Linked DNA regions of Homo sapiens: all the other regions are linked to region 1. The links come from fine-mapping of genetic effects on gene expression. A gene starts in region 1. Each other region holds a variant in brackets. All regions are shown on one strand. Distances are from middle to middle.

Region 1 (6,259 bases):
TCACGTATTCAGTAAAATCTCAAGAGTATAAAGCAAATATTCGTAAATGCATAAAAAAGACTAAAGGTAAATAACCTTAATGTGCTGGAGATTGCAAGCAATTCTTAGGGTTTAGGTATCTTTTTGGCTTTTTCTTTTTTATTTTTTCTTTTTGCACAAAGAGCATGTGTTACTGTGATGAGGGGCAAAACCTTTCATTAAAGGCCCAAGCAACATCTACCTACCACCATCTGTAAGGGCTCACCCAGGAGACAGCAACAGCAGCAGGGGACCGCCAACTCCACTCCCAATAAGGAACTAGCACTGAGGATTTGGAAGGCAGTTTCCCATGAGCAGTTTCTTCCCTGAAGAGGAAGAGAAAATTCATCTCCAGGACTGGATCATACCATCTCACATCTTGGAGGGCTCTGCAGCTTGTATCAGCCACAGACAGTCAATGAAGACACAGCTAGAACCGTCCATCCCGGCTGCACTGCAGAGCAAGTTCTTGTCACTGTGCTGAACTTCTGGGTTCTCATCTTTACAATGGACTCTTGGCAATACTCCGTTTAAGAGTATTTATGGGAACTAGACAAGATAAGAACTGGTTTATTATTGCAAGATATAGCTGAGTTTTTTTTTTAACTTCATTAATAAATATCCAACACATGAAGACACACTAATAATACATTTCTTGACTTATGTCAGACTGTTACCATATAATTAAATTTTTCACATAATTATTTTCCCTTCTTAAGAGTCATTTATTTAACATTAGACACTTTCATAGTTAAATTTTCTAAAATATGTCAAATGTTTCCCTGTTAGCTAATTTGCTACACACTAAGACACACTATTTACTTTCTTTTTCAAATGACTTGGGGTCCTTACTATGAACAAAGTATGTGTTAGAGGAGGAAGGGGGCCAATATCTTTAAGTAACTCCAGTGTACTCTCATTGTAATTACCTCTTTAATTATTATCGAATATATTACTCACAACAGCCTAACTTTGCAGATTGCTCCAATTTCCAGGCTGAGAAAAATGAGGCTCAGAGAAAGAAAGTGAAATGCTGAAGGTTACGCAGCTAGTAGGCAGTAGAGTAACTAACCCAGATTGAGTTCCAAAGCCCTGTGGTCTTTAATAGCGCAAGGAACTGTCACATCCTCCAGTGATGGCTGGAGCTGAGATTGCTTTAGTTCTGTAACAAATGCTACTTCGTTCTTGTATCTGACCTCTGCAGTTTGTGGGGCTTTCAATTTTCACTGTTTAGTTCGTTAGTTTATTAATTTTTGGCTTATTTTCTGTAAGGAATTCTCTGCAACATTTTGATGCCTTCAACCTGTCTTACCCTAAGAAATTAAGGAAATCTCTTATGATTACGTCTAAGGCCAGTAGGTTCTAAATGAGTCTGTAAAAGTGACTTCTCTAAGTGTGCTGCAATGACCTAATGACTTGTCCGTTGTTACCTGGCAGAACTTTCTGCTTCTTTCCAACTTTCCAGCTGCATTTCAGATAATTAAAGTTATTTTCTCTCAGGACAGAGGAGCGGGACTACTGTTCCACGTAGACGTATGTGTATGTATTACCAAAAAAAAAAGTTAAACTGTTAAAGTAATCACGGGTGCAGTGGCTCACGCCTGTAATCCCAGCACTTTGGAAGGCCAAGGTGGGTGGATCACCTGAGGTCGGGAGTTCGAGACCAGCCTGACCAACATGGAGAAACCCCGTCTCTACTAAAAATACAAAATTAGCCAGGCGTGGAGGCACATGCTGGTAATCCCAGCTACTCGAGAGGTTGAGGCAGGAGAATTGCTTGAACCCAGGAGGCGGAGGTTGTGGTGAGCCGAGATCACGCCGTTGGACTCCAGCCTGGGCAACAAGAGCAAAAACTCCGTCTCAGAAAAATAAATAAATAAATAAATAAAAATAAATTAATCATTACTCATTGCTGTTTATTAAATGCCTTTTCTGTTCCCACTGTGATTCTACAATCACTGCCTCTGTAAAACCCCGGAATGCAGGTGTTCTTGCCTCCATTTTATAGATGAGGAAATCAAGACTCAGGGCTTCCCCACCAGGCCAAAGGCATTCTGTGAGTAGTTTATTTCAATTCAACATGGCTGTGCTGCACATGGCAGTTGGAGTAAAGATCTATCAGCATCGGGGGTTCTTCATGATCTAACTAAAGTGAATCATGAGTGCTTTCCCACTGCGTCAAGAAGGCCTGGAGTTTGTGCAGCCCGGCTAGAGGTGAGCAAAGCCTCTGTGTTGCAAATCTCCAGGGCGCAGCCTCTCATTGTATTCAATGCAGATGACAGTCCCAAAGGCACCGCCCATACATTGTACAGACAGCTGGCCTGGCTCTCCGGATTGTGCAGGATAGGCCTTAATGGCAGAAGGTAGGGGAGAGGTGGGCGTCACAAAAGTGCTTGGGGAACTATAAAGTAAACAATGAAAAGCAGCACAGGAAGGTTCAGACATCACACAGGAGAAGCACAGGGTGTTCCCCTGGGTGGGGATTTAAAACAAGGGCCTCAAGTTCCCTGCCCTTGTCTCTGGGCAGAAGGGGCAGATAATGCTATGATACATTTTTTGTAGGTGGTGCCATTTGACTGCATTTAACCAACAAAGGTATGTATCGAAATCCACGTGGAGATTTTCATGGCAAAAGTAGAGCGAATTCACAAACTGCACTGTGTCTGGCAGCTTCAGACAAAAGCAATGGGAACAAATCACGACTCTTGTCCAGCAATTCTTCCTGTTTTGGAATGATCTTTGCTCAACAGCCCATCCATGAGTACAGGGCCCCCAAAGGCCAACAAGACAGGGACTCTCTCCAGGGACAAATGCCCCGCAGCTGAGAGAGGCCGCCCAGCTATCCAGCGGCCGCGCAGCCAGCCAAGATTTCAACACAGGTCTGCCCTATTTGGTCACCATCCCCGACAGTGCTGGGCCAGGCCATCATGTCACATTGGGGAGTTTTCCCTGCACTCCAGGGGGAATTCTCAACCACAACCTCTGTATCCGGTAGTGGCAGATGGAAAGAGAAACGGTTAGAAAAGCGTGGTTCTTGCGCAGGAAAGTTGGAGCAAAGAAGAGTTCAGAAGTGGGCGGGTGTGTGTTTAAAAAAAAAAAAGGGGGTGGAAACCCCACCAGCCAAGTCTGCAGAAAAAAAATAAATGAAGTCTGCCTATCTCCGGGCCAGAGCCCCTCCCCTCGGCCCGCGCGGGAGGAGTGTGACCCAGGTGCCGCTTCCTCTCGCCGCCGAGGGTCAGGAGCCCGGGAGCGCGACCCTCCCCCGGCCCGGCCTGGCCCGGCCTGGCCAGTCCCCGCGGTCTCTGCCCGGGCTGACGCCCAGGAATGTGGTCGACGAGAAGCCCCAACAGCACGGCGTGGCCTCTCAGCCTCGGTGAGTACCCGCCGTGGGGAAGGGTCCTGGGGACCCACTGGAGGCCGCGGCCCGCAGCAGCCAGGGGCCGAGCCACGGCCACGGACGCCCTGGTGTCCCGGTCCGTGCCGGGCCTCCAGGCGGAGGAGGCGTCCGCTGGGCTCAGATCCCCGACTCCAGCCCCGGTTCCCCGGCGCCTGGGCTGCGCGGAGTCCCTGTCCCGCGTCCCGGACCCCTACGCGCAGCCTCCACGCGCTCCGAGCTGGAGAAGCCGCCAGCCCGCCCTCCCAGGGCGTGTCGCCCGCTTTCTGTTTCTTTGTGCGGGGCATGTGAAATGTGTGGGGCCAGAATTGTCTCCCTAAAGAACAGTTAGGTGAGAGTTCACATCACAAGTTGCTTCTGTGCTGCTCCCCAGCCAGGGTCCGACCGGCCAGGCTCCGGTGAACTCCAGGCAACTCCAGCCTTGCCCAGGGACTTGCTCGCTCCGCTGGGCGCCGCAAAGGCACACAGATGCGAGGGAATCCTGCGGCCTGGATCCTTTGGGGATTTGTAATTCCTCGCTGCTGGTTTTCTCTTTTAAACCATCACGTTTTCTTGCTGAGAGGAAATCATCTGTGATGAAAGTCTTTGTAGATGCTTGGAAACATTGCTGGGCCTCTCTCTGCCCTCTTCCTCTGCCGTTGGACTTTTGCAATAAAAACTACCATTTGATTTTACCAAAAAACGTAATGTACATCCCTCTTACCCCCACCCTGCCGCGGTCTGATTCTTAGAGTCTGTCAGAGAGGAGATACCCTGAGCCTATCATGTGACAATGATACCTTATTGATATGATAATGATATGGGTATTGGAGACACCAACTCTTTTATAAGTCTTTGAAATCCAGGGGGTTGTGAGGCCTCACCCCTCACCCCGCCTGAGCTTGGAGCTTGGCGTGGAGGAGTGCTGCTTCGGTCTACGTGTGTACACGGCACTCCATGTGCCTGTGGTTGTGCTTGCGTCAGCCTGGGAGTGCGCAGGCATCAGTGGTGCTTGGGAGCGAGGCCCCTCAGTCTGCACTGGGATCATCTGCACTGCCTATAAACAAGGCAGCCTCTCTTAGCTCCAGTTTCCTCATCTGCAAAGTAGGAAAGTAGGAATAATAACAGGAGATAACTCATCCAGCAGCACGAAGTGCGTATAAATGTCCCGGCACGGAGTCTGACACATCCTAAGTGCTGGATCCGTGCTGGGCATGTTTATATAATTGCACATGAGACTGTGGTTCCCGGAGCACGTAACTTGAGCATATGTTTATGTGTGTGTATACGGCAGGTCCTGGGTTAAAGGGACAGGAGCCACTGTCATTATTCCAATTCAGTCACTGAGGAGGTGAGGCTGAGAGGCATTCTCATGTCTGAAGAGGATGGGCTTGCCTGACCCCCGCCCCCGTGCCCAGCCCAGCCCAGCAGCCCAAGCAGTTCTCCAGGACTCAGGTTTCAGACCTTCAACACTTGCCTTGGGAGACAAACAGCGGTGCAGCCCTTGCTTGCAAGCCATTCCACATTAGACTTCGGATTGATTTATGGCAGGATCCCTGCTGTGCGAGAACTGCAGGGGGGGTGGGGGGCGGCTATTTCTTGCTGCTAACTCAGGCAGGATGTGTCTATATCCTGTCTCAGTTTATGTAGCTGCTCATCAGAGCCAGAGGTTAGAGCGGAGAGGACCCACTTCCGCCAGGCCGGCCTGCTCTGCTCAGCTCAGCTGGGCTAGGCCCCAATGCCACAGTTACTGCGCGTGAGTCATGCACAGCAATCCATTGCCTTGCCCTTGGATGGAAGGGGTCAAGGCTCAGTGAGAAGACGGCCAGGTTTGGCAGCTTTATATAGAATTCACCGCCTCTGGCAGAAGCAGAGGATTGCATTAAGTGCCAAATGAAATTCCACCTCAGCCATTGCTCAATTCCTCCAGATGTCACTGGCACTGGGAGTCACATGATGCTGGTGGTCAGCAGCTGGACCCTTCCAAGGGTGCCCGTGGTTGGGCAAGTATTTCTGGGGACTTGCAGAGCTCCCTGGGGAGCAAAGGGTTGTGAAGTACAAGGCATTCTGCGCTTGTGGTGGGAACAAGTGAACCCATCTGCAGTGAGTAGGAAGAGGTCCCCTCAACAGAGGTGAGAGGTTGGGCCAAGTCAAGTCAGTTTGCCTCTTCAGGTGGCAGACCTGTATGTACATCTATGCCTCAAGTGCCTGTCTGAGGCCACAGCCAAAACATCTTCCAGTAACTGAGCATACCCAGTGGGCCAACAAGCACGCTCTAAATACAAAACCAAACAAACAGTAAAGTTAACAGTGAATGAAGAGTTAAAAATAGGAGAAAGACACCTTCTCCCTACCTCAATGGCAATTACTTTATTTATTGAGGATAATCCTTCTAGAAGTAAATTTGCTGATACAAATATTTCTTATTTTACATAATAAAAATGCATTTTATATATTTTACTTCATCTTGTTTTTTTTCCATCAGAATATCTCTTAAAGGTTATACCTTGTTATTTTCTTTAATCAGTTCCTCTGCTGATGGGCATTTAGGCTGTATGCAGACTTCATTTAATTTTTTTAAACCACACACAGCAGTCCTGTGACAATGAGTAAGGAGGATTTTACATGCATGTGTCTGTAAACTGTTAGGATAAATTCTCCCACCTCAGCATTTGATTTCTGGGACAAAGTGTGTATTCATTTAAAATGTTAGTAGATCTTAAGAAACTACCCTCCTAAAGGTCACACCGGTTTCTCATGCTCACAAATAGCCTATGAAAGTCACTATTTCCCTGCGTCCTCACTCACACTGCATTTTTTATCTTGGCCAAACTGAGAGGTAAAACAACAAAACAAACGCTGTCACTT
Region 2 (6,259 bases), 110 kb after region 1:
GCTGAGCATTCTCACGAGCACCCTCAAGCCCAGAGTGAAGAAAACTGGAGTTGAAGGAGTGGGGGTCTTGTCCTTTCTTACTGAAAAAAATGGAAGTGGTTGCTGGCTACTGGGACATGAGTAAAGGTCTAACCCTCCCCTAACCCCACCTCTAGTAATGGGGAACAGGTTCATGCAGGTGTTTTTCCCAGTGTCAACACTTCAGCCATCTGAGGCAAGCCCCAGCCCAGGGCTCTCAGAGCCTGTACCCTATCCATCCCTGTGCCATGCCCTCAGGCTGCAGTAATCCAGTGAAACAGAGGCTCTCAAGGGGGAAGTAAGGTGCCTCAGACAAAGAAGAAAGTCACCACAGTGTTGAGTGGAGCAGACAGAAGCTCTGGACAATGCTGCCTGAGCAGAAGGCAAGATTAAAAAAAAAAAAAAAAGATTCACTTACACAAAGGAGCACAGATATGCACAGTATACACTAACACACACACACGTACACACACACTAACAATGAAGAAAAGGGAAAGAGCATTCAAGAACAAAGAACCCTACCTAGAAGAAAACATCACTCAAGGAGTGAAAAGAAATGTTCCAGAATTGCTTTAAAGTACAACTTAAAAGGGTGTAAAGTCAATAACAAGAGAGCTCAGTGACAGAATGATAAAACAGAACGAAGTGAAAAAACATTATAGACATACAGAAGCAAATTAATATCAAAACATCATTACAGATAACACATTAGAAACAGCAAGAAACAGAATAAACACTACTGAAAATAATTGCTTTTCTGCAGGAAAAGCTTCAGGAAATGTTTACTGAACAACACATACAGCACACTTACTGCATGCCAGTACTGTTCTAAGCACTTTACTAACTATTAATCCTCATAATAATCCTGAGGTAAGGACAAGTATTAACTGCATTTTACAAAGGACAAAAACAAGAAACTGAGAGGTTAAGTATCTTCCCAAGGTCACACAGCTAATATGTGGCAGTCTGGCTCCAGAGTCCTTGCAATGAACCATTTCACTATGACGAGTAATAATAATGTTAAAAATCCATAATAATAAAAATCACAACCACTTTTCCACGACTTGCTCTGGTCTGAGCACTGTTTCTTAAGAGCTTTACATATATTAAGTCTTTTAATCCTAGGAGCTGTCCTGAGATAGGTATATTATTCCAACTTTATATGAGGCAGCAGGCTCAGTGAGGTTAAGTGACTGGATAATGAACGTAGATGAAGAAAGGAAAGAGAGCAGAAAAGATACAGTAGTTTTCCTTTCTCTGAGGTTTCCATTACCTCTGATCAACTACAGTCTAAAAATATTAAATTGAAAATTTTAGGAATGATCAATTCATAAGTTTTAAACTGTGCACTGTTCTGAACAGCAGCAATGAAATCCCACCAACCCACTCCATCCCATTTGGGACATGAATCATCTCCTTGGTCTCATGCATCTGTGTTGTATATATGACCTGCCCATTAGTTACTCACTAGCCATCCCAGTTATCAGATCAAAAAAACACAGCACAGTTGGCCTTCCATATCCATGGGTTCCACATCTGTGGATTCAACCAACTGTAGATAGTTGATTGATACACACGAAGTGGATGGTTGCAGCTGTACTGAACACATACATACTTTTTTCTTCTCATCATTCCCTACACAATATAGTCCAGCAACTATTTACACAGCATTTACTTTATATTAGGTATCATAAGTAATCTAGAATTGATTTAAAGTATAAAGAGGATGTTTGTAGATTACACTCCAATACTATGCCATTTTGTTTAAGGGGCTTGAGAATCCTCAAATTTTGGTATTCAGGGGAATCCTGAAACCAATCCCCCGTGGATACGGAGGGGATGACTATATACATAGGATTTGGTACTATCCTCGGTTTCAGGCATCCATTGGGGGCCTTGGAATGTATCTCCTGTGGATAAAGGACACTACTATAGCAGCGAGCGGAAACAGACAATAGGAATGAAAGCCTGTCCTAACACTTGCAATGGATAATGTCTTCTTTTCAAAGTTTCTGAAATTGCGGAGAAAAAAATAGTCTGTAGATTAAAAGAATGCACATTCTAATCGGGGAAATTTTTATATAAAGCACATAATACTGAAATGTCTTATTTCCTAGATAACTATTAAAATTAAAGAATAAGGAAAGAATTTTCCAGCCATTCTGACAGACAATAAATAACCTAAAAAGGTAAAAAGCATATATATGAATCCACAGCAATAGCAATGTCAAAGACAAGGGAGTATTGTCTACAAGTCCTGAAGGAAATAGCAGATCATAATATCCAGCCAAGATGCCATCGAAGCATAGAAACCAAGATGACTTTTAATATCACTTAGGCAATTGGTAAACTTATGCAAGCATGAAAAAAAAAGAAGCTCAGAGATTACCAAATCCAGTAGTCTTTCCCTGAAGCAGTACTTTGCAAAAAAAAAAAAAAAAAAAAAATCTAGACGTAAAAGGAATCAAAATAAAATCCAAGGATGAAGAAATGATTATTTAAAAAATGGTGGTGGGCGTAATATCCAGCCAAGATGCCATCTAAGTATAGAAACCAAGATGACTTTTAATGTCACTTAGGCAATAGATCAATTTATGCAGGCATGAAATAAGAAGCTCAGAGATTACCAAATCCAGTAGTCTTTCCCTGAAACAGTATTTTGCAAAAAGAAAAAAAAAATCTAGACAAAAGAGGAATCAAAATAAAAACTCAGGGATGAAGAAATGAGATTT[T/TA]AAAAAATGGTGGTGAGCAGTGAATCTGTTTACATCTATAACTAATATGGAACAAATATAGGAACCCTGTTTATATAACAGAATATGGATGTTGTATGTCCAGATCAAATAAAACACAAATAACAATGAAAAGTTGGTCAGAGGTTATACAGGGGAAAAATGTAAATGGCACTGATACTCTCATCTTCCATAAATGGGAGTCAATCAATACTGTATAAAATTGACTAGCTAAAAATGTCTTCAACCTTGTAGTGATTTAATAATCTCTCTCCCTTTTAAACGTGACAGGATCTCGCTTATTTTGTTGCCTCTGATAGCCTTTGTCTAGACCTGGGTAGCAATAAATAATAATGAAACAAGCCATCATCTATGGCGTGCTCATTTTGCATCAGGCTCTGCAGCAAGCCTTGCAGATGCCCACCAAGCCTGGGGTCTGAAGGATGTCAGAGGGGTCTGAGTCTGAGTGGGTGGTGGAATAGCCCAAGAGGTCTGAGGCCACTACTGGGCTTCCAAGCACTGTGCTCACTTTGCTCCTAACCAAGCTGATCAGCTGGCAGCAGCTAGGAGTTCCATTCAACATCAGGCATCACAGAACAGGGACAAAGCAAACTGGCAATGGCCATGGCATCAAGGAGTTGGTCCTGCTGGGTCAACTCCTGTTCACTCACCTGGGAAGAAGGCAGTACATTTCAAAAATATTTCTATATGAAATTATTACACAGTGTGAGATTGTAAGTGCAAAAGCAAGGTAGAAAGTGCATTTTAAAAATTCTAATGGCAAGCACTGTTTGTATTTAAAGAAATGATTCAACATAAAACGTAGAGTGAAGGCTGCTCTCCAGATACCCGGTGAAGCTCAAACAGTGCTTGCTGAGCTGCCAGGCTGTGGAATTGGGGGGTGGGGTAAACCAAGTTTACTTTCATCTCCAAGGCCACAAAGACCACAAAGGCCACAAAGATGTCAATCTGGGATGTAACTCAAAAAATATGGAAGGTATGTTTTTATAAAAAAAATCTTTTCTATAATTGGACATAATTTCTATTTCAAGCCCCAATTCTGCTGATTCCAGAAAATTTAATCACATGCATTTCATGTGCATGATACTCTTTTCCTCTAGTGCGTTCAGTTTTCTTCCCAAGTTTCTCACCAGGGTGGTATCCGAGCTCTGAAGGACTTCATAGGGAGGGTGTCTGGTCCTTGGCCATGGCCTGTGGTGCTCCTGGGAGCTGCTGAGATGACCAGCACTCCATTGTTGTCTCTGGTCTCCACTGTCTAAGAGGATGTTCTCCTACAGAGGCTCCAGGCTCCCCTCTGGGCACTGTTCTCTCGCCAGCAAGTACTCCTCTCAGAAGCCTGAAAGTCTGCAGATGCTCTCCTGCCCCAGTCTGGGACATTCCAAGGTTTTCTCATTTATCTCACTGCCCGGTCCATTCTACTATGTCAGGCCAGGGGTGGTGGGAAGACAGGGGGCTCAAGGAATTTTCTGCTTCCCTGAGCCTCTTCCCACTCCAATCCCAAGGAAGGAAGCAAAGTCCTTCTCTACCCAGAGATGCCCAATCCACCCGACCCGAAGTGGCTCTGTTGTTCCTCCACACATAGGAACCTACAGGCAAGCACTGCTTCCTTTGGTCCCCCCAGGGAAAGTCCAAAATGTTTCAGCGTCAAAGTCTAAATTGAAAAGCAGTTGGGTTAAAAGAGGAATTACCAAGAACAAAATTCACACTGTTACTATATCAAAATACTGCCAGCCCCTTGGATACAATGTATATGACTGCAGACAGCACAACCACACACAGAAAGAGATGCATCTCTGTGAAGAGAGGGATAAGCTGCGATTTTCTGGAAAATCTCCTCATACCTTCCCCAGCCCGCTACTCCTCCCCTCTGCAGGATCCTCTAGGCTTCGCTGGCCTCCCTGATGTGGATCCCTGGACTCTGCAGAGCTCAGCTCCCTGCAGCTCTGAGCGCTCTGATGTGACGGCCTTGGGAGGGAGTATAGGCGGAGTGCCCAGTGCTGTGATCCACATGGGGATCCTAGGTCTGTGCCCCACCCCAGAGGAGGACACAGCAAGCCAGCGTGGTGTCTGTGAGGACCCCCAACCCCAGTGCCTATGCCAGGAACAGCCCCCGATAGCAGGACCTAGAGCCAGCAGCTTCTACGCAGGTGGAAACTGCTGGACACTTAAGATCGAAATCACGTTTGAGTCAACTGGCCCAAGTGTTCAACATCTAACATTAAGAGACAGCAGGGCTCAGTGACTCTACCCCCATCTTGTGATGTTGGTTTCACATGATTACCCACCTTCCCTGGCATCATCTCCACACTGGCGAGTGACTAGCGTATGGAAAATTCAATGAAAACATCCCCCTCTGCAGCAGTTGCTGCTCCTCCATTGCTTGCTCTTGTGTGCTCTCTCTCTCTCTCCCTCTCTCTCTTCTTTCCTCTCTCACTCTCTCATCTCAACAATTGGTGTCTTCTTTTATAAACAGGGATAGCAATAGCCCCATGCCCACTTGGGAAGGAAGCCCCCTCCCCAGGGGCAGTAGCACAAGAGGAGGCACCTCCTGGGGGCTCCAGAGTGTTTTCTCTGGGACAGCAATGCAAGGGAAGACTCAGAGGAAACACACACAGAGCTGGAGTCATGGGTGGGCTCCGATCCCAGCCTATCTGGAAATTTGCTCTGTCTCCTTACGGAGTTTCACTTGGCAAAACCTTGGGTTGCTTCTGACCACATCTCCTCTTAGGGTTGTGGAGGCTCAGATGGAGGACAAGTATGCACTTGGCACAATGCCGTGAGCACAGTACTGCTGGGAACCTCCGTGCCCACCCCCTTACCCAGCCTTTTTGTTCTGAAGAAGATGTATTAGTCTGTTCTCATGCTGCTATGAAGAAATACCCAAGACTGGGTAATTTATAAAGAAACAAGGTTTAATTGACTCACAGTTTTGCATGCCTGAGGAGTCCTCAGGAAACTTACAATCATGGTGGAAGGCACCTCTTCCCAGGGTGGCAGGAGACAGAATGAGTACCAAGTGAAGGAGGAAGCCCCTTATGAAATCATCAGATCTCATGAGAACTCACTCACTGTCATCAGAACAGTATGGGGGAAACCGACCCCATGATTCAATTATCTTCACCTCGTCCCGCCCTTGACACGTGGGGATTATTACAATTAAAGGTGAGATTTGGGTGGGGACACAGAGCCAAACCATTTCAGAGGAGAAGGCCAGTAAGGGCCTGGCCAGTTTCTTCTAGACCCCACCCTATGCTTGGCACCCCTAGACACATGGCATGGTCACCATGACCTTCTGGGCAGCCAATCTCTGCCACTTCCTGCTCCCACCAGGTCTTCCCAGATGAGGAGAGTCAGGCTCCACCGCATCCTCTGCATCTTTATTCTACCAAACTCCCAAGGAAGGGGGATTTGGTCATTTCTGGAATAATTCTTACTTACGTTGAGAACATGGGTATTTCCAGAAAATGAATTAAACAGACCAAATCCTTTGA
Region 3 (6,259 bases), 69 kb before region 1:
CACGACCTGGCCAGTCAAGCAATGCCAATGCTAATTCCGTAAACTCACCAGCCAAGCAATAGCCAATGCTTACAATGGGACCTGTGACCAAGCAGGCATGGGGCAGTGAACACCAAGAGAACAAAACAAGAGCCCCAAGGAAGTGCATGTCTACCTCCCAACTAACATGAGGACACAGTGAGCTCTGCTGTGCACACAGGCCACATCTCGGGGTGGGTAAGGAGGAGCATGGAGTATGAGAGTCTTATCATTAACCTGAAGGAATACATTTTCAACCAAAAGAACACTAATTAAACCAGTGTAAGTTTTCCCACTACCAGGCCAGGTGAGAGCTCATGGGACAGAATAGGTTGTAGATAAAGAGGCAACATTTGCTTTGTCCATCTGGGCAGTGGCATGTGTGAATATTCAACCTCATCAAATGCATATAATATCTGTGTTTCCATTTGCATGAATAAATAAATGTGCATTTGCCACATTTCAGTTGGTCAATCTATAGTGGATCATCACCATTCCTTCGTGATTATCAACCGCATGTACCAGACATGGTGCTGCCTTTTATACACAACCTTACCATACTGCAAGTTAGATGGGACTACCCTATTTTACAGATGTGGAAACTGAGACTGGAGAATTTCAGTGTCACATGCAGGGTCACTCAGCTGGTAAGTGACAAAGTCAAGTTCCCAACCCAAATGTGTCAGACGCCAAGACATGTGTTCCTTTCCTACGCCTGGCAGAATCTGGAAAGCCACATAGTAGGAAAGAATAGGACAATGGCAATAGAGAAAGGGTGGAAAGAGCCTTCCAGTTTAGGGTGAGCAAAACCTGGACACCACGGCAGTGACAGAAGATGAAATTAGGAAAAAGACAGGCTCCAGGAAGGTTCTGGTGTGATGAAGCATTGAGGATACATAGGCTGGGGGCATTGCAGGGAGTGAGGTTGCCAAAGGAGGCCGGATCCTGCAGACCTGCTTGGTGGCAGGTGGAGAATGGAGGCAATAGACTGCCAAAGGGCCCTGTTTCTCCAAGTAACAGAAGTTTCTTGCCTCTTGTGACAACTGCAGGGCCAAGCAGCCCTCTACTCATGAGGCAGAAGTGTGTGTCACATCAGCCAACTGCTCCCATAACATAATTCCCCTACCTTGTACCTGCAGTGCACATGCTGTCCAGGGGTGGGTCCTCTGGCTGTCAAAGATTATTATTGAGGAATTTCAGCCCAGGCCTTCCTCACAGAACAGTGTGTCTATGTCTACACTTGCCAAACCTATAAGACTGGCCCACCTTGTGCTCCAATCCTAAGGTACACTCTAGTGTCGAGATAGGAGATGAGTCTCAACAGCTAATGGATACCATATGGCCAAATTCCATAAATCTGTGTGGTGAAGTCAGGGGTCATCTGCCTGGACAAATCCCAGCTCCACCTCCACTTGTTGTGAGACCTTAGGCAAGCCCTTGCTTCCCTAGCTCTTATTTCCTCACTCTAATATTGGAATAATAGCATCTATTTGATAGTGCTCTTTATAAGGACCAAGTCAGTTCACTCCTGTAAGACACTCATTCCCAGAAGACACTCATTGCATGTTAGCTATTGTTAATAAGTTACTCCTTCCAGTAAACACGACATTCATGGGAGATAATGTTTCCTTCATAAACAGGAATGAGACTCCCAGTTACTGATGGCAGAATGTGAAGGAAAGTGTGGGTTTCAGTATTTGGCAGCACAGGGTTCCATGCATGCTCCCAAGACTTCAGAGGTATAGGGGCCCCAATGTGCAATGGCAGCCTGGGAGAGAAGCAGGCACTTAACTCCAGCCTGTGAGATCTGCTACAGCATGAATAGAGAGAGGGTCCCCAGAAGCCTTGGAGACCCAGCCCTTACCCCATTGTGTCCTGAAGGCAGGACATGGAGTCAAAGAAGATAATTCTCAAGTCTTGAGATTTAGTGTTCTCTTTGTTGGGTTTAGACTAACTTGGTACCTGTTACTCCTTTCTTCTTGCCTATTCTCCTATGTCTGTCCTGTGCCTGTCCCATGATTGTATTTTGGAATCCCATAACTTGCTTGATTTCAGACTCACAGCTAAAGGGAAATTTGCCTCAGGATGAACCGTGCCTTGAGCCTAACCCATATCCAATTTAGATGAGACTCTGGACTTTGAACTTTTGAGTTCATGCTGAAATGCGTGAAGACTTTGGGGGGTGATGGGATAAAACAAATGTATTATGCATGTCATGAATTTTGGCAGGTATTTCGGGGCCAGGATTGGAAGGCTTTGGTTTGAATGTGTCCCCTCCAAAATGCAGATGTTGCCAATGTAGTCAGATTAAGAAGCGGGGCTTTTTAGAGGTGATTAGGCCATAAGGGCTTCTCCCTGGTTAATGGGATTAAGACCTTTATAAAAGAGGCTTCACACAGTGTTCAACTAGTTTGCCTTCCTATTTTTTAGCATGTGAGACCCAGCATTCATGGAGCCAACCTGGAAGCAGAGAGCAGCCCTCACCAGACACCAAACCTGCCGATGCCTTGATTGTGGACTTTCCAGCCTCCAGAACTGTAAGAAATAAATTTCTTTTCTTTATAAATTACCCAGTCTCAGGTATTCTGTTACAGCAGCATGAAATAGACTAAGACAGTGAGGATGTAGAATTTCAATTTGGGTAGGTGAAAAAACTCTGGAGATGAATGGTGATGATAGTTTCAAAAGAATGTAATTATACTTAATTTCACTAAATTGTACATTTAAAATGGTTAAAATGGTAAATTTTCTGTTAAGTATGTTTACCACAATTAAAAACACCTTCTAAAGTCTTCCCATGGCCAATAAAGCAAAGCTCAATCTCTCCGGCCAAATGCGCAACTGTTCTCATGGGCTGGGCACATGTGCTAGTCTGGCGTGGTCACTTTCCATTTCCTACCCACAGTTCAGCTACAGTGAGTTCCCTGGTGTCCCTGGAGTGTACCCTTCTCTCATTTCCGTGCTTTGTGTATGTGCTTCTGTCCACTGGGAATTTCCTTTGCTT[G/T]TTTTTTCCCCTTTGTCTACGCTTACTCTGGGTCACTCAGCTCACATGCCGTGCTCCTCTGGGAAATCTTCTTCGATCCTCAGGATGGATCAGCTTTGCTTTCCTGGTGCTCCCGCTGCTTTATGAGAGCATTGATAACACTGCAATCTAATCATCCCATAACAATGCAAGGGGGAACACCTATTAGAAAGAAATAAAGCCATATTGTGTTCACATTTTAATGAGAGGAGAAAATTCCGTCCATAAAAATAGACCCAGAAGTGACATAGACAATATAATTAGTAGACAAAGATGTTAAATCAGTTCTTATAACTACATTCCACATGCATAAGAAAAAAAGGGACGCGTGAGCATGGTAAGCAGAGATATGGAGCATAAGTAAAGGACTCCAATAACATTCCTAGGTGCAAAAAAACATAATGTTGGAGATTTAAAATATAATGAATGGGATTAAAAGTACATTATACATTACAGATGAAAAAGGGGTAAACTTGAAAATATAAAAATAGAAACGACAAGATGAAAAACAGAGAGAAAAAAGGGATAAAAAATGAAAAGCGAATCAGTGAGTTATGGAAAAACTTCAAGAAACCTAATCTATGTATAACTAGAATATGTGAAGAAGATAAAAAGAGAGTAGAAATAGAAAAACACATACTTGATGAAATCATTGCCAAAAATATTCAAAGTTGATAAAAACTAGAAACCCACAGATCCTAAAACTCAAGGAACTACAAATACAAGAAATATGAAGAAAACCACACCATAATGCATCATAGTTGAAAATATTAAAACCAGTGATAGAGAGAAATCTTAAAACCAGCCAGTAAAAAAAGTCTCATTACATACAAAATGGTAAGAATGACAGAAGTCTTCCCATTGGTAAAAATGAACACAAGTTAATAATAGTGGGACATCTTTAAGGTACTGAAAGAAAAGAAGTCAACTTACTATTAAAAAAAAAAAACTCGGCAAAAATATCTTTCGAAAACAAAACTGCCTGGGTGCAGTGGCTCATGCCTATAATCCCCACACTTTGGGAGGCCAAGGTGGGAGGATTGCTTGAGGCCAGGAGTTCAAGATTAGTGTGGGCAACATTGTGAAACCCCATCTCTACAAAAAAAATAAAATAAAATTAGCCGGGTGTGGTGATGCGTTCCTGTAGTCCCAGCTGCTGGGGAAGCTGAGGCAGGAGGATCATTTGAGCCCAAAGAGGTCGAGGCTGCAGTGAGCTATGATTGCACCACTGCACTCCAGCCTCAGAGACAGAGCAAGACCCTGTCTCAAGAAAAAAAAGAAAACAAAGATTTTCATAGGCAAACAAAAGCTGAAAGGATTTATCATTAGCTACCCTGCACTACAAAAAATATTATGGAAAGTCTGTTAGAAAGAAAATGACATCAGATGAAAAACTCTATGTAAAAGAACAAAGAACTCCAGAAATAATAAATATGTCAGTTAAATATATATATATATATATTCTTCTCATTTTAAAAATATCTTTAGAACATAATTGATTGCTTAAAATAAAAATAATAGCAATGTATTGTGAAATGTATAAAATACATAGAAGTAAAATGTATGGCAACAACAGCACAACAGCCAGGAGGGAAACACAGAAGTATAACATTACAAATTTCTTATATCATGTGGGAAAGGGTGTGATATTACTTATGGGTAAACAGTGATAGGTACAAGATGCTAACTATAAATCCCAAAGCAAACATTGCTATGATACACAGATTCTTCAGGTGGCCCCTCAATCCACTCCTCTGAGTGTTCATGCTTTTGCGGGATCCCTTCCTCTTGAGTGTGGGTTGGACCTGTAACTTCTTTCCATTCAATAGAATATGAGAAAAATGATAGAATGTATGTGATTATGTTATACAATATTGCAACATTCATCTCGCTAAAGTCTGTCTATAATTTGGAATAAAATAATGGAGTGAATGTTTTCCCACTATATCATAAATAAACAATATCTACTGTTATAACTCCTATTCAACATTATAATTAATGCTTTACCCAATACAATACAGCAAGAAAAATAGATGGCATAAGGTTGTAAGGAGGAAAAAAAGCTCCCTCTATTTGCAATTGTTGATTGCATAGAAAACGATAAAGAATTAACCAAAACAACCACTAGAAGTAATAAGTGAATTTAGCTATGTTGCTCGACACAAGGTCAATATATAAAAATCAATTGCATTTCTATGCAATAGCAATGAAAAAATTGGAAATAGAAAATGTTAATATAATTTATAAATGTATAATAATGCCAAAAAATATGATACTTAGGTATAACTATAGCAAAAATGTGAAAGACCTTTATGGTAAAAATTATAGGATACTGGTAAGAGAAATGAAAGATATCCTAATTAAATGTTAAGATATGCCTTGTTCATGGATTAGAAGACTTAATATTGTTAAGAATTCATTTCTGTCTAAATTAAAACATATATACAACCCAATTTCAACGAAAATTCTGGCAGAATTTTTAGAAATAGGAAAAGTGATTCTAAGATTTGTGTGGAAAGGCAAAGGAACTAGAATAGCCAAAACAGATTTTACAAAATAGAACCAACTTTGAGGAATTTTAATAACTGATTCAATACTCAGTTATAAAACTACATTAATGAAGACATGGAATACTATCAAAAGGACAGACACAAATGTCAATTGAACAGAATAAAGAGGCTAGAGTTAAACCGACATATACGTGATTGTTTTTACAAAGGTGCAAAAGTACTTCCTTGGAAAAAACATAGTCTTTTTCATAAGTGGTTCTAGAACAATCAGTTATTTACATGCAATAAAAAATATCAATCCTTTCCCCAAAGCACATATAAATTGATCAATTGGACTTTATCTGACTTTAAAAGTTAAAAAGACAATTTGCAGATTGGGAGAAAATAATTACGAATCCCATATCTAATAAAAAACTTGCATACAAATTACACAAAAAGACTTTCAAAACTCAAAAATATGAAAACTAATAGCCCAATTTTTTAAATGAGAAAAGACATTAATAGACACTTCACCAAAGAAAATATGAGAATGACAAAATAATCATAGAAAAGATGATCATTATTATTAGTTATCAGGGAAAAGCAAATTAAAATCACAATGAGTATCACTATACACCTCCTAGGAGGAATGTTTTTTTTTTTTTTTTTAACTGAAAATGCCACGTTCTGCTAATGGTGTAGAATAGCTATAATACATAACACTTTGTTG

Which allele goes with the higher level. Positions count from the first base shown, and alleles are read on the strand shown. Sizes are in standard deviations (SD) of each study's normalised expression. Not every link is listed here.
For the expression in naive CD4 T cells of the gene that starts at base 3,237 in region 1, TA is the high allele of the variant in region 2 and T is the other (moderate effect, 0.70 SD a copy in Schmiedel 2018).

What was found. PIP is the estimated chance that this variant, and not a neighbour inherited with it, causes the effect.
Region 2: its variant is the best candidate, but not a certain one, in a credible set for the expression of GYPC in naive CD4 T cells (Schmiedel 2018, PIP 0.70).
Region 3: its variant is the best candidate, but not a certain one, in a credible set for the expression of GYPC in lung (TOPMed, PIP 0.85).

The regions. Positions count from the first base shown.
Region 1 is chr2:126,652,922-126,659,180 of GRCh38, forward strand. GYPC (glycophorin C (Gerbich blood group)) reads left to right here and starts at 3,237. Exons shown (of 4, transcript NM_002101.5): 1 at 3,237-3,391. The coding sequence starts at 3,343. RefSeq lists enhancers at 2,887-3,176, 3,970-4,809, 4,267-4,516, 4,707-4,936 and a silencer at 3,267-3,636.
Region 2 is chr2:126,762,429-126,768,687 of GRCh38, forward strand. No RefSeq gene overlaps it. Among named protein-coding and RNA genes, the nearest start is that of GYPC, 110 kb to the left of the region's middle. The variant T/TA (reference allele first, on the strand shown) is at 2,751.
Region 3 is chr2:126,583,548-126,589,806 of GRCh38, forward strand. All of the region lies in intron 2 of LOC105373602 (a long non-coding RNA gene), which reads right to left. Among named protein-coding and RNA genes, the nearest start is that of GYPC, 69 kb to the right of the region's middle. The variant G/T (reference allele first, on the strand shown) is at 3,023.